2 separate regions of the Homo sapiens genome follow, and region 2 is linked to region 1. Evidence: fine-mapped expression QTL. Tissue or cell type: whole blood. Region 1 holds a variant in brackets; the other region holds the start of a gene. All regions are shown on one strand. Distances are between the middles of the regions.

Region 1 (6,881 bases):
TCACTTCAAATTTTAACAGCAGGCAATGATTACATGCAGTCCCTCTGATTTACCAAAACAGAAGATTCTCCTCTCAATTTGTATTTAATATCAGCTAATTCAAGATTTAAAAGTGACCACTGTCCAGCCGGGCATGGTGGCTCACACCTGAAATCCCAGCACTTGGGGAGGCCAAGGCAGACGGATCACTTGAGGTCAGGAGTTCAAAACCAGCCTGGCCAACATGGTGAAACCCCGTCTCTACTACAAATACAAAAAAATCAGCTGGGCATGGTGGCGGGCACCTGTAATCGCAGCTTCTTGGGAGGCTGAGGCAGAAGAATCGCTTGAACCTGGGAGGGGAGACTGCAGTGAGCCGAGATCGCGCCTCTGCACTCCAGCCTGGGTGACAGAGCAAGACTACGTCTCAAAAAAATAAATAAGGGGCTGGGCGCCGTGGCTCACACCTGTAATCCCACCACTTTGGGAGGCCGAGGCAGGTGGATCACCAGGTCAGCAGATTGAAACCATCCTGGCTAACAAGGTGAAACCCCATCTCTACTAAAAGCACAAAAAAAATTAGCTGGGTACGGTGGCGGGCGCCTGTAGTCCCAGCTACTTGGGAGGCTGAGGCAGGAGAATGGCATGAACCCGGGAAGTGGAGCTTGCAGTGAGCCAAGATCACACCACTGCACTCCAGCCTGGGCGACAGAGCAAGACTCCATTTCAATATAAATAAATAAATAAATAAATAAATAAATAAATAAATAAATAGTTGGGAGCCAAGATCACACCACTGCACTCCGGCCTGGGCGACAGAGCAAGACTCCATCTCAATATCAATAAATAAATAAATAAATAAATAAATAAATAAATAGTTGGGCCCAGGCGTGGTGGCTCACGCCTGTAGTCCCAGGACTTTGGGAAGCCAAGGTGAGGGGATTGCCTGACCTCAGGAGTTTGAGACCAGCCTGGCCAACATGATGAAACCCCATCTCTACAAAAAAAAAAAGAAAAAAAAATAAGGCCAGGCACGGTGGCTCACACCTGTAATCCCAGCACTTTGGGAGGCTGAGGCGGGCAGATCATTTGAGGTCAGGAGTTTGAGACCAGCCTGGCCAACATGGCGAAATCCCACTCTACTAAAAATACAAAAAAATTACCCGGGCATGGTGGCACACACCTGTAATCCCAGCACTTTGGGAGGCTGAGGCGGGCAGATCACTTGAGGTCAGGAGTTTGAGACCAGCCTGGCCAACATGGCGAAATCCCACTCTACTAAAAATACAAAAAAATTACCCGGGCATGGTGGCACACACCTGTAATCCCAGCTACTCGGGAGGGTGAGGTAGGAGAATCGCTTGAACCTAGGTGGCCGAGATGGCACCACTGCACTCCAGCCTGGGCAACAGAGCAAGACTCCATCTCAAAAAAATAAATAAATAAATAAATAAAAATGTATACACAAAGATGTTCACAAACTTACAACAATGAAAAACTAGAAATACCACAAATATCCAACCAACAGTACAAACCACCAATATCCAACCAAATGTTTAATCCACAACATTAATAATGATTTTTACCAGGCAGATGGCACGTGCCTGTAGTCCCAGCTACTTGGGGAGACCGAGGTGGGAAGTTACAGTGAGCTATGATTGTGCACTGCACTCTAGCCTGGGTGTCACAGCAAAACCACGTCACTAAAAAATAATAAATGAAGGCCAGGCATGGTGGCTCACGCCTGTAATCCCAGTACTTTGGTAGGCTGAGGCGGGCGGAACACCTGAGGTCAGGAGTTCGAGACCAACCTAGCCAACATGGTGAAACCCCATCTCTACTAAAAATACAAAATTAGCTGAGTGTGGCTGGGCGTGGTGGCTCACGCCTGTAATCCCAGCACTTTGGGAGGCTGAGGTGGGCAGATCACGAGGTCAGGAGTTTGAGACCAGCCTGGCCAGCCTGGTGAAACCCCGTCTGTACAAAAAATACAAAAAGTTAGCCAGGCATGGTGGCATGCGCCTATAATCCCAGCTACTCGGGAGGCAGAGGGAGAAGTGCTTGAACTCTGGAGGCTGAGGTTGCAGTGAGCCTAGATAGTGCCATTGCACTCCAGCCTAGGCAACGAGGGCGAAACTCTGTCTCAAAAAAAAAAAAATTAGCCGAGTGTGGTGGCACATGCCTGTAGTCCCAGCTACTTGGGAGGCTGAGATGGGAGAATGGCTTGAAACAGGAACCGAGATTGCACCACTGCACTCCAGCCTGGGCCAGACAGCAAGACTACATTCTGCGGGGCGGGGCGGGCGGGGGGTGGAGAAAAAAAATTAAATGAACATCTGCACATACATTGGAATGTAATACAAGTAAGACAACATTTACAAAGAATTTTAAGGCCGGGTGTGGAGGCTCATGCCTGTAATCCCAGCACTTTGGGAGGCCGAGGCGGGCGGATCACGAGGTCAGGAGATCAAGACCATCCTGGCTAACACGGTGAAACCCCCTCTCTACTAAAAATACAAAAAATTAGCCGGGCGTGGTGGTGGGCGCCTGTAGTCCCAGCTACTCGGGAGGCTGAGGCAGGAGAATGGCGTGAACCTGGGAGGCGGAGCTTGCAGTGAGCCGAGATCTGGCCACTGCACTCCAGCCTGCGCGAAAGAGGGAGACTCTGTTTAAAAAAAAAAAAAAAAAATTAGCCGGGCGTGGTGGCGGGCAAGTGTAATCCCAGCTACTCAGGAGGCTGAGGCAGGAGAATCATTTAAACCCAGGAGGCGGAGGTTGCAGTGAGCTGAGATTGCACCACTGCACTCCAGCCTGGGCAACAAGAGCAAAACTCCATCTCAAACAAACAAACAAACAAAAAAACAAAAAAAGAATTTTAAATTACTTGGGAAAATTATTGTACTACAAAATCAAACGAGAAAACTATCTCTGGTAACGACTGGCAGCCTCCAGGGAAGAGAACTAGAGTACTAACTGGATACAAATTATCAATTCATAAAAAATTAAAAATATGTGGAAAAAGATCAGAAGAAAGTGTGCTAAAATAGATTGCTTCTGAATGGATTAACAGTGTGGTTTCTGCCTGCTTCTTTATACTTAATTGTACCTTGCCAAATCATCTAAAATAAACATGCATTATTTGGCCGGTCACGGTGGCTCACACCTGTAATCCCAGCACTTTGGGAGGGCCAAGGCGGATGGATCACGAGGTCAGGAGTTCGAGACCACCCTGGCCAACATAGTGAAACCCCATTTCTACTAAAAATACAAAAATTAGCCGGGCGCGGTGGCGGGTGCCTGTAATCCCAGCTACTCCGGAGGCTGAAGCAGGAGAATTGCTTGAACCCAGGAGGCGGAGGTTGCAGTGAGCGAGATCGCACCACTGCACTCCAGCCTGAGTGACAGAGCTAGACTCCATCTCGCGGGCCGGGGGCGGTAAGGAATCAAGGTTTTACAAGAGCAGAAGATAGTAGAGATCACTGCATTTCTGTCAACTACATCCGTTCTGCCACCCGTGCCCTGCGTCCTGACAGAGCATACGCTCAGATGGTGTTTGCTGATTTGCCGAATGAATGAGATGGTCCCTTTCCCGCGGCTGCTCTGCCTGCCCAGAATGGTCCCCAGGTTTTCTCGCTTTTAACCAAGAAACTCAAGGCTTCTGCAACGAGACACAGCCCCCAGGACTGCTTCTCAACCAGTCTAGGCCTCCCTTCCTGTCTCCGCCAAAAGGCTTCAGGCTCCTCCCCACTCTGGAAGCTGCCCCAGCCCGCTTCAGGGCCCAGACCCTCAGTCCCGACGCCCACTAGCCTGCCAAGTTTCTTCCACCACACTACGCCGGCGGCCCTCGGTAGAGCCACCGCCCTTCTGCAGAGTAACGGCCCGCGCCCTCGGGACAATCCCTTTTCCAAAAATAACCCCCTCGGCACCTGCCCCCTTGGCAGCTGCTGCCCGGGCGGTACCTGTGCCGTAGACCAAGCAGCCGGAGAGGATCAAGAGTAGCCGCACTGTCCCACCGCCCCCGACTCCCGAGCCCCAGGGCCCGGGACCAACTGCCGGCGAGACCGCCACTTTCATTCCTCCCGCCATGGTTGCCTCAAGCCA[C/T]CTCCTCCTCACGTGCCTTACCCCAGCAACTAACTCCGAACGGGCAACGACAGCAGCCTATCCTCTACGAAACCCGCCCCTATCAACCAATGGGATGGGCAGGGCTTCGAGCACCCAGCCCTCCAAGGGCCCTATGAGTCCCGCCCCTTAGCAACTGAAGAGAGAGGGCGGGAAAAGCAGCTTTCAGCCTATTGGAAAATGGGTTCTCACCCTAGCAGTGGCGACAGGAAGATCCCACCCCGCTAACAACATGCTTCCGTCTTCAGTTTATTTACAACTGGTGTGATTGATGGTAAGTTTAACCAATAGAAAATCGGAATGGGAGAGGCCTCCTTGACCAAACTCGGTATTTCCATAGAAGCTGTCTGAAGTTCCTTCCGTTTTCTTTCGGTTACTTTTTATCACGACCTTTCTGTTATGAGACGCCTACAATTGAGATCGCTTTATGAGTAGGACCCTGATAGGACGATTTTTAAAGTCGACTGACAAAAGTGTGGTTCTCCAAAGTCCTAAAGGATTTAAAATAGAAGTCACAAAAAAGTGTGTGTCAATATTTTATAAGCATAAACATTAGCTTTTAAAAATGTATTCATAGGATTTTTATTTTTGGAAGTAAAATTAATGTTAGGATTAAGAAAGATTCATTTATTCCTCTTATCATCTTGTGAGACAAATATAATTCTCTCCATTTAAGAAGCCAAAGCCAAGACAGCCACAGGAACCTGCCCAAGATTTCATAGTTCATCTGGTCTGTGATCCCAACCTAAATCCTACTGACTCCAAAGCCGGAGTTATTTATATGGATTAGCTGCTTCCCATTCAATGATTTAACACAGGGCCCAGCAGAGATCCAGGTGTTCAGAAACTGTTAGTAGAAATTGAAACTTTTTTTTTAAGAGGATCTGATGGTGATGGGTAGGAAAACTACAGATGATAGAGCCAAATGAATTGAGGAATTCAAGGAAGGGGGCATCTCCTGGGGAAGGTTCAAGCTTTCAAAACAAGAATTTTTTTTTTTAATGTTTTTAGAGACAGGGTCATTCTCTGACACCCAAGCTGGAGTGCAACAGCACCATCACAGCTCAGTGTAACCTTGAATTCCTGGACTTAAACCATCTTCCCACCTCAGCTTCCTAGATAGGTTGGGCTACAGGGATGCACCACCATGCCCAGCTATTTGTTTGTTTCATTGTTGTTGTTGTTGTTGTTGTTGTTATTGAGACAAGGTCTCCTTCTGTAACCCTTCTGGAATGCAGTGGTGTAACCACAGCTCACTGCAGCCTCGAACTCCCAGGATCAAATGATCCTCCCACTTCAATCTCCCAAGTAGCTGGGACTACAGGCATGAGCCACTATGTCTGGCTTAATTTTTTTTAATTACTTTTTGTAGAGACAATATCTTGCTATGTTGCCCAGGCTGACCTCAAACTCCTGGCCTCAAGTGATTATCCCACCTTGGCCTCCCAAATTACTGAAATTACAGGAGTAAGCTACTGCACCTGGTCTAAAACAAGGACCTTTTTAAAAGTCAAAATGGGCCGGGCATGGTGGCTCAGGTCTGTAATCCTAACACTTTGGGAGTCCGAGGCGGGTGGATCAACTGAGGTCAGGAGTTCGAGACCAGCCTGGCCAACATGGCAAAACCCCGTCTCTACTAAAAATACAAAAATTAGCCAGGCATGGTGGTAGGTGGCTGTAAGCCCAGCTACTCAGGAGGCTGAGGCAGGAGAATCCCTTGAACCCAGGAGGCGGAGGCTGCAGTGAGCCAAGATCGCCCCATTGCACTCCAGACTGGGTGACAGAGCAAGACTCTGTCTCAAAAGAGAAAAAAAAAAAAAGTCAAAATGGGCTGGGCATGGTGGCTCATGCCTGTAATCCCAGCACTTTTGGGAGGTTGAGGTGGGAGGATCACTTGAGGCCAGAAGTTCGAGACCAGCCTGGCCAACACAGCAAAACCCTATCTCTAATAAAAATACAAAAATTAGCCCAGCATGGTGGCAGGTTCCTGTAATCCCAGCTACTTAGGAGTCTGAGACAGAAGAATTGCTTGAGCCCAGGAGGCAGAGGTTGCAGTGAGCCGAGATCATGCCACTTCACTCCAGCCTGGGTGACAGAGCGAGCCTCTCTTGTCTCAAAAAAAAAAAAAAAAAGTCAAAATGGGGCTGAGCTATGGGCAAGAGAAGAGATTTCATTCTCAGAAGGAAAAGTCTAGGCCAACAGTGCTGATATGGTCATCCTGTATTTCACACACACACTCCCTCAGCTGACCTAGGGAAGTCAGCATCAATCATGTTGATACTATGTACCCTTGATAACATGAGATGAAAATGGCATTTTAACTCTGTGGTTTTCCTTCCCAAAACCCATAACACCACTCTAATCTTGAGAAAAACATTAGACAAATTCCAATAGAGGCATCCTACAAAATACCTGACCAGTACTCCTCAAAGCTGTCAAAGTCATCCAAACATCATTATGGGCTTTTTTGTTTTTGTTTTTTGAGACAGAGTTTCACTCTTGTTGAGCAGGCTGGAGTGCAATGGCACAAACTTGGCTCACCGCAACCTCCCCCTCCCAGGTTCAAGCGATTCTCCTGCCTCAGCCTCCCAAGTAGCTGGGATTACAGGTGTGTGCCACCCCGCCCAGCTAATTTCATATTTTTAGTAGAGATGGGGTTTCTCCATGTTGGTCAAGCTGGTCTTGAACTCCCGACCTCAGGTGATTTGCCCGCCTCGGCCTCCCGAAGTGCTGGGATTACAGGCATGAGCCACCATGCCCAGCCCATTATGTTTTTGAGAACT
Region 2 (6,881 bases), 61 kb before region 1:
TGAAGAGTCTCTGGAGCAGCTGGTAGAGATCTGGATCCCTCTAGGGAAGAAACAAAGAGGGGTGAGGCAGGAGGCTCCCACCCGGATCCACTCATCCTTTTCCCACAAGAAACAGCCTCTTCCTGAGCCCATCCTGAATCCGACACCCTATTTCTTTCAGAGTTTCCTCTGGTTCACACTGGACGAGAAGTAGGTGCTCCAGGAGTGACCTGTGGACCAACAGCAACACCAGCACTACACAGAGCCTGTTAGAAATGCAGACTCTTGTTCCTACCCCAGACCTCCTGAGACAGAATCTGCATTTTAAGCAGCCCCCCAGGTGATTCACATGCATGGTGAGATTGGAGGCACACATCTGCACCTGTGATTCCCCCACTCTGCACGATGTCCATGGATGTTTCTCTCCCTGTTTTCCACCACCTCTTTCTCTATTCTCCATGGCTTTCCGCCTCTAGTTTTCTCTCCCTCTCCCTTTTGGCCCTAGGTCTAGAATTCCAGGAAGGCAACATGCTCAGAAGGCACGTCTTCTTCTCTCCACAACTGAATCCCAAGTTCTAGAGCTGTTGCCCAGCACGGGCTCTTGATTGTCCCTGTGATTTTTTTTTTTTTTTTAGCAACTTGCGTACAGCAGGGTGGTGGGCACACACCACACAGCCAGTTAATTGCAGCTGCAGAGAGACAATAACAATGATCATGGCTGGAGATTTTCATCTCAAATCTCAAGTCTCAGCAGCGCCTCTCTTTCCAGAACCCAGGCATCCTTCGGCTGTTGTGCACACACAGAAGTGCATTTACACAGAACACACCCCCACACATACCAACCCAGTTGCCTAGGCACACCTATGTACTACCCTCTTCCTGCCCCAATTTCCCTCATCCTCACAGACTCTCAAGGAGAAGGGGTAGGATGGCAATCCCTCTCATTCATTGACCAAGAGGGGCAGAGGGGACATCTCATTGGCCAAGGTCTTGAAACAAGTTTGTCTCAGAAGAACTCAGATACTCTAACTATCCTGGGCTGGAACTTTGTGGCTCCAAACGGTGTCCAGCCCATACTTGGCACTCCCCTGGGTGTTTTTTTTTTTAACGGTTCTGGCCTTTTGGATATGGCACAACTGCTGCCACCTGCAAGGCTGCCCTGGTGATAACTCCCTTGGCCCAGCATGTGGTGTTCAGGCAGCCACTTTTCCCAAATTGTTGAATACTCTGCCCACCTCCTATAATGAGATGCTGAACAGATTTGAGCTGAAGAGGCAGTTAAACTTCACACATTGAATTTGTAATAAGTCCCACCCGCAATCATCTTAAAAGCATTTGTACCGATGTAATTGCTGTCATTTCAAAACCTTGAAAAGACTTCCTCCCTATCCTCCCCCTGTACCCCTACCCTGACAATTCCTATTCTTTTTCGTAAAGGAACTGTGGAAATCGAGGCTCAATCTGGTTTTTTTGCTGTTGTTGTTTTCCTATCCTGACTAAGCAGAGGATAGAGGCGGGCAAGGGAGAAAAGAGAAGAAGGAAGGGGTTGGGATCTTAGAAGCACCTGAGGTTACTGGGGGTGGATGAGCAAAAGATAAGGGAATTTATTTGCATTTTGAAAATAAAACAATACACATAACTGATAGGTAAAATAGCACACAAATAACCATTTGGGAAAGAAATTCTGACTGTTTCATACCATCCAGGAAATAGAAGAGATCTGTCCCTTGCAAAGGGACCTGAGGTAGACTATAGAGAGCCTTAGACCACCCTAGCTCACCCCTCACAGTACCATCCAATCACCAAGTCTCCCATCAATCAACCCACCAAACAACATATTTGTAGGGCACCTTTTATGTACAAGGTGTCAAAGACATGCAGAGATACAGAGACACAAACACACCTGGAGACAGTGGGAACATGAAAGGACCAGAGAAACAAAGAAATCCAAAGGGAGGCAAAATGCCCTCTGACGGACAACCCCCCCACCCCAGTTTCCTCACTACAGCTGTCCAGACAGGCAGAGTCCCAAGTTCCCGTGATGTCCCCAGTACTCTGCCAGGGGAGACTTACCTTGCTGCGGCCCCCGCCAGGAACCACCTCCTCCTGTGGCTCCTTACAGACAGCCCCAAAGCTCTGAGCTAGGCTGAAGGCCAGGATGGCTGTGAATAGCAGCATGATCCTCATGGTGCCTGGGAGAGCAAAGGGACAGGACTCAGGTAAAGGAGAGAAGAGGAAGATACAGCATGGGTGAAGACACAAGAGACATTCATTACCAGCAGCTTGGCTTGACCCTGCTTCCCCAGCCCCCAACTCCACTGTCCAAGCCCTGGTCTGGAGAGAGGGTGGAAAGTATTTCTGAGAAGGGGGTACAGCCCTTGGGCTTAGTTTCCCTGCTACCCCATCAGATATCTCCCCAGGAGATGTGCAATGCTATAGTGGTGCCAGGAGGACTCTAGCTCCCAAGAAAGATGATAGATTTGTAGGACATGGACTGGTCTGTTTCCTCAGTCAGCTGGAGGAGGGATCCTGGATGCTATTTTCCAGTACTAGATAATCCCAAGACTTAGGCAAAAACTTTCTGGTATGAAAGAATGAGTCTGTAGCCACAGGCTCCAAACACCAACCAGCTCTCGGCCCTACAGGTGCTTTGTGCTCACCTTCCCAGTCCCCTGCTCCCCTATCAGAGGCTGCCATCTGCTTTATTCCCTCCTGACGCTGGCTCCTGTCCCCTGGTGCCAGCTCTGGTCCATCCAGCATTCTCCCACTTGCCTACCTGTGGAGCAGCTCTGTGCCGGGGGCTGGGTGGTCTGGCAGGATCAAGGAACTGGCTAGGACCGCTGCCTGCTCCCCTCACACACTGGTGCTGCCGGTGCTCCTGCAAAGAGAGAAACCGAGTGGAGGGGATCTAGGAAGGCTGCAGTCACTCAGTCCCAGCTCCCTGATAAAGGCTCTGGGAGGGTCTAGGGGAGCTGAGGGGAGGGGCTGAGAGTCACCAATCCCAGGGTGGCTGGAGGGGAGGCGGGGAGGCTGTAGGGGGGAGGAGGATGCAGACAGTAGCCACACACCCAGACACACACATACCCCACAGACCCAGCAGTGAGACCATTTCCTAACAGCACCCGAGCTGGCTGCTGTGTATGGTTTGTGTACAGTTTGACACTGCTGGGGCTTAGAGGACAATACTCCAAAATGAAGGCCTCAATAGCCGCCTCAGAAGCAGAAGTTTTTCTCTGACCCTCTCTTGTCCTCTTGTCACTCGGTTCCATTCTCCCCCAAGACCAGCTATAAAAACCAGAACCCCTTTGCCCCAAAGCCAGCCATAAAACCTAAAATTACTCTATGTAAAAACTGGCCAAAAAAATTATCTGACCGGCCGAGTGCAGTGGCTCACGCTTGTAATCCCAGCACTTTGGGAGGCCGAGGCGGGCGGATCACGAGGTCAAGAGATCGAGACCATCCTGGCCAACATGGTGAAACGCTGTCTCTACTAAAAATACAAAAATTAGCTGGTCATGGTGGCGCGTGCCTGTAATCCTAGCTACTCGGGAGGCTGAGCCGAGATTGCACCACTGCACTCCAGCCTGGTGGCAGAGCAAGACTCCATCTAAAAAAAAAAAAAAATTCAGAAAAGATGACACTCACCCCTTTTTTGGGGTCTCCTACTTTCGTTGTGGAGTTTCACGAGTCATGGGCAGATTCTTCTCAGGTCTAAAGCTCTGCTCTCTTCTACACTACATTACCTAATCTCTTTGGTTTTTGAGGATGCCAAAAATAAATTACTTTGTATTATTTAAAAAACTAGACATATAGCTAGTCATATATAATAACTAGATAAAAAATACAGTTTTAGAGATGACTTATGACAGTTATTCACAACAAAGTATTACTACTATACAGGGCTACTTATTTCTTCGTGCATTTAAATTTTTAAAAACATGGTCTGGGGCACCTAAAGACAATGAAAGCACTCACCATTGAGGATGAAACTCCCATTAAAAATAGGCTAAGCACGCCAGGCATGGTGGCTCACGCCTGTAATCCCAGCACTTTGGGAGGCCGAGGCGGGCGGATCACTTGGGGTCAGAAGTTCGAGACCAGCCTGGCCAACATGTTGAAACCCCATCTCTACTAAAAATACAAAAAATTAGCTGAGCATAGTGGCTGGTGCCTGTAATCTCAGCTACTTGGGAGGCTGAGGCAGGAGAATCGCTTGAACCCACGAGACAGAGATTGCATTGAGCCGAGATCACGCCATTGCACTCCAGCCTGGGCAACAGAGCAAGACTCCACCTCAAAAAAAAAAAAAAAAAAAAGACTAAGCACAGAGTGGGCTAATCGGCACTGGGCTGCCTGCCAGCCTTGGGGGAGCATCTTTACAGTGGGGCACTCGATAAAAATGCCACACATCTCGTCCCATGACATTTCCCTCTTTTGGGGGGCCTAGGATTCAATATAAAAATGAGATCCTTGATTAGGGGGGTTCTGTATTCTGCCTTCCAGCTATGCCTGCTTTACCCATTTAAATATGAGGCCCTAAAACCTATGTTTTCTTCCCCCTTTTTATTAAAGGGCTCCACCCTAAAGGCAATAATCTAATTAAAAAACAAGCTAGTTAAAAAGCCCAAAATACAACTTCCTAAAAAAAAAAAAAAAAAAAAAAGGCCGGGCACAGTGGCTCACGCCTGTAATCCTAGCACTTTGGGAGGCCGAGGCAGGTGGATCACAAGGTCAGGAATTTGAGACCAGCCTGACCAACAAGGTGAAACCCTGTCTGTACTAAAAATACAAAAATTAGCTGGGCGTGGTGGCACACCCCTGTAATCCCAGCTACTCAGGAGGCTAAGGCAGGAGAATGGCTTGAACCCAGGGGGCGGAGGTTTCAGTGAGCCAAGGTCACGCCACTGCACTCCAGCCTGTTGACAGAGAGACTCCAGCTCAAAAAAAAAAAAAAAAAAAAAAAAAAAAATCTGACCTACGTTATTTGACTTAGGTCATAAAACCTCCATTCCAGAGAGGGTCCTGCCCCACACCAGAAGGAAGGAATGAGAGAGGCTAGGAGGAATCTCAACAGACAGGCCTTGCTGGGTTTCCCCACTCAGTCTGTTAACATTAGATCGTGCCCTTTCTGTCCAGTCATATTTCTACACAGCTGTCCATACTTTGTTAAACCTAAACATAAAAATAGACAATTTCCCCTATAGCTTCAAGGCTTCATTCTAAAGGCTCCCATTCGTATTTAATAAATTTGTATGCCTTTTTCCCTATTAATCTGCTTCATGTCAGTGATTTTCACTGAAACTTTAGGGGGCCAAGACCACAGTTTGGCATCACAAATAAGACCACCAAAGCTATTGTGCTTTTCTGGAAGCCACAGAGAAGGAAATACAGGAACCTGGCAAGCCAGCAGAGGAGTGAGAATTTCCTGCCAGACTCCCAGTTTTCCAGTTTTCCTCTCTCTGTGGACTCTGGATGAGTGGACAGTAAAAATCATTGTTTCCCTTTTCCTTTCCAAATGTAAGATTAATGAGAGAACAGGTTTTGTGTGTGACTAACCTTGGTATAGTGAGTCTGATATATTTTTTAGTACTTTGTGGTATAAGTATTCATAGTTTGACCCCATTCCCTTCAGAAATAGCTTTTGTTGTTGTTGTTGCCATTTTCCTTTCAGAAATAGCTTTTTTGTTGTTGCCGTTTTCCTTCGTTTTTGTCTTGTCTTTTGGTGTTCTGTCATAAGGAGGGGTACCCTAGGGTAGAACAGGCCTGCAACCCACTGTTTGAACTGGCCCTGCAAACTGGTCAGTTTCGTGGTTCTGGTTATGCTGACTTCTGTTATGACAAACTTTGCTGCCAGTCCCTGAAATAAAAACAGGGTGAGAGGTTTCCCTCTTGTCTCATGTCCTTGAGAGCATGACGTGACTAGATGGGGATATTCCCGCTTGGTCTCCACCATCCAAAGGATGTGATTTTTCAGGTAACATCACAGCCAGTATGAAAAGATTGGGAGCCCAACACATGTATTTTCAAACATTCCAAGCTCCTAGGGGAGTTTTGTCTTACAAGGTCTCATCCCTCCTGGGCTTCTGTTTTCTTTGACATAAAGAAAACTTTGGATTAAGTTGCTATTGGAATTAAATACCCCATTAAAAATTCTAATTGTCAATGGCCAAAAGATAAATCCTTTAGACTAAAATTCCTAAATTTAAAAAAATTACTTGTTCTAAAGAATTGATAGATCAAATTAAAAGGACACATAATAGTGTCACAGCTATCCTTAACAATTGTCTTGATTAAATTAAAGCACAAAAACCTGACCTAAAACAATTACACTCAAACTGCCACTTTGGATTCCATACAAAATTAACAATGGAGGCTGCTCCATTTTACAGTTTAATAATTAAAATTCCCACCGTGGCTTAGGGTTTCCTTCCTAATCAGAAATCAGTCCTTTTCGGCTTAATATTTATGTGACTTTTAAAATATCAGCATTTGTCCCAACTAAAATCTGGTAACAAGAGATTTAAGGTGAGTCGCAGTGGCTCACACCTGTAATCCTATCACTTGGGAGGCCGAGACAGGCAGATCACTTTAGCCCAGAAGTTGCCCGGACTTGAGACCAGCCTGGGTAACAGGGCGAAACCCCATCTCTACAAAAAGTTTTAAAGGAGGAGAGAGACAAATTTAAAAGAATTTTTGTTAAAGAGCTCCATGGTTAGAAGTCAGCTTAATTAAAAGCTAATATTCAAGCTATGTGTATATTTTTAAAGCCTTCTGTGTTTTCTCTTTAAATCCTATTTTAAAAAATTTTGTTCAGTAGACTAAAATCTTTTTTTTAAAATGTGTTTGATGTCTCTATTCACTTCCTTTCTTAAAAACTATCCTCCCATTTACTTTTACTCCAC

Evidence for each region. PIP is the estimated chance that this variant, and not a neighbour inherited with it, causes the effect.
Region 2: it holds the start of TAC3, and the variant in region 1 is the best candidate, but not a certain one, in a credible set for the expression of TAC3 in whole blood (TOPMed, PIP 0.50).

The regions. Positions count from the first base shown.
Region 1 is chr12:57,074,681-57,081,561 of GRCh38, forward strand. It overlaps NEMP1 (nuclear envelope integral membrane protein 1), which reads right to left and starts at 4,111. Exons shown (of 9, transcript NM_001130963.2): 1 at 3,939-4,111. The coding sequence starts at 4,065. RefSeq lists enhancers at 3,666-3,915, 4,036-4,085. The variant C/T (reference allele first, on the strand shown) is at 4,081.
Region 2 is chr12:57,013,632-57,020,512 of GRCh38, forward strand. It overlaps TAC3 (tachykinin precursor 3), which reads right to left and starts at 2,898. Exons shown (of 7, transcript NM_013251.4): 1 at 2,756-2,898; 2 at 2,053-2,171; 3 at 1-40. The coding sequence starts at 2,166.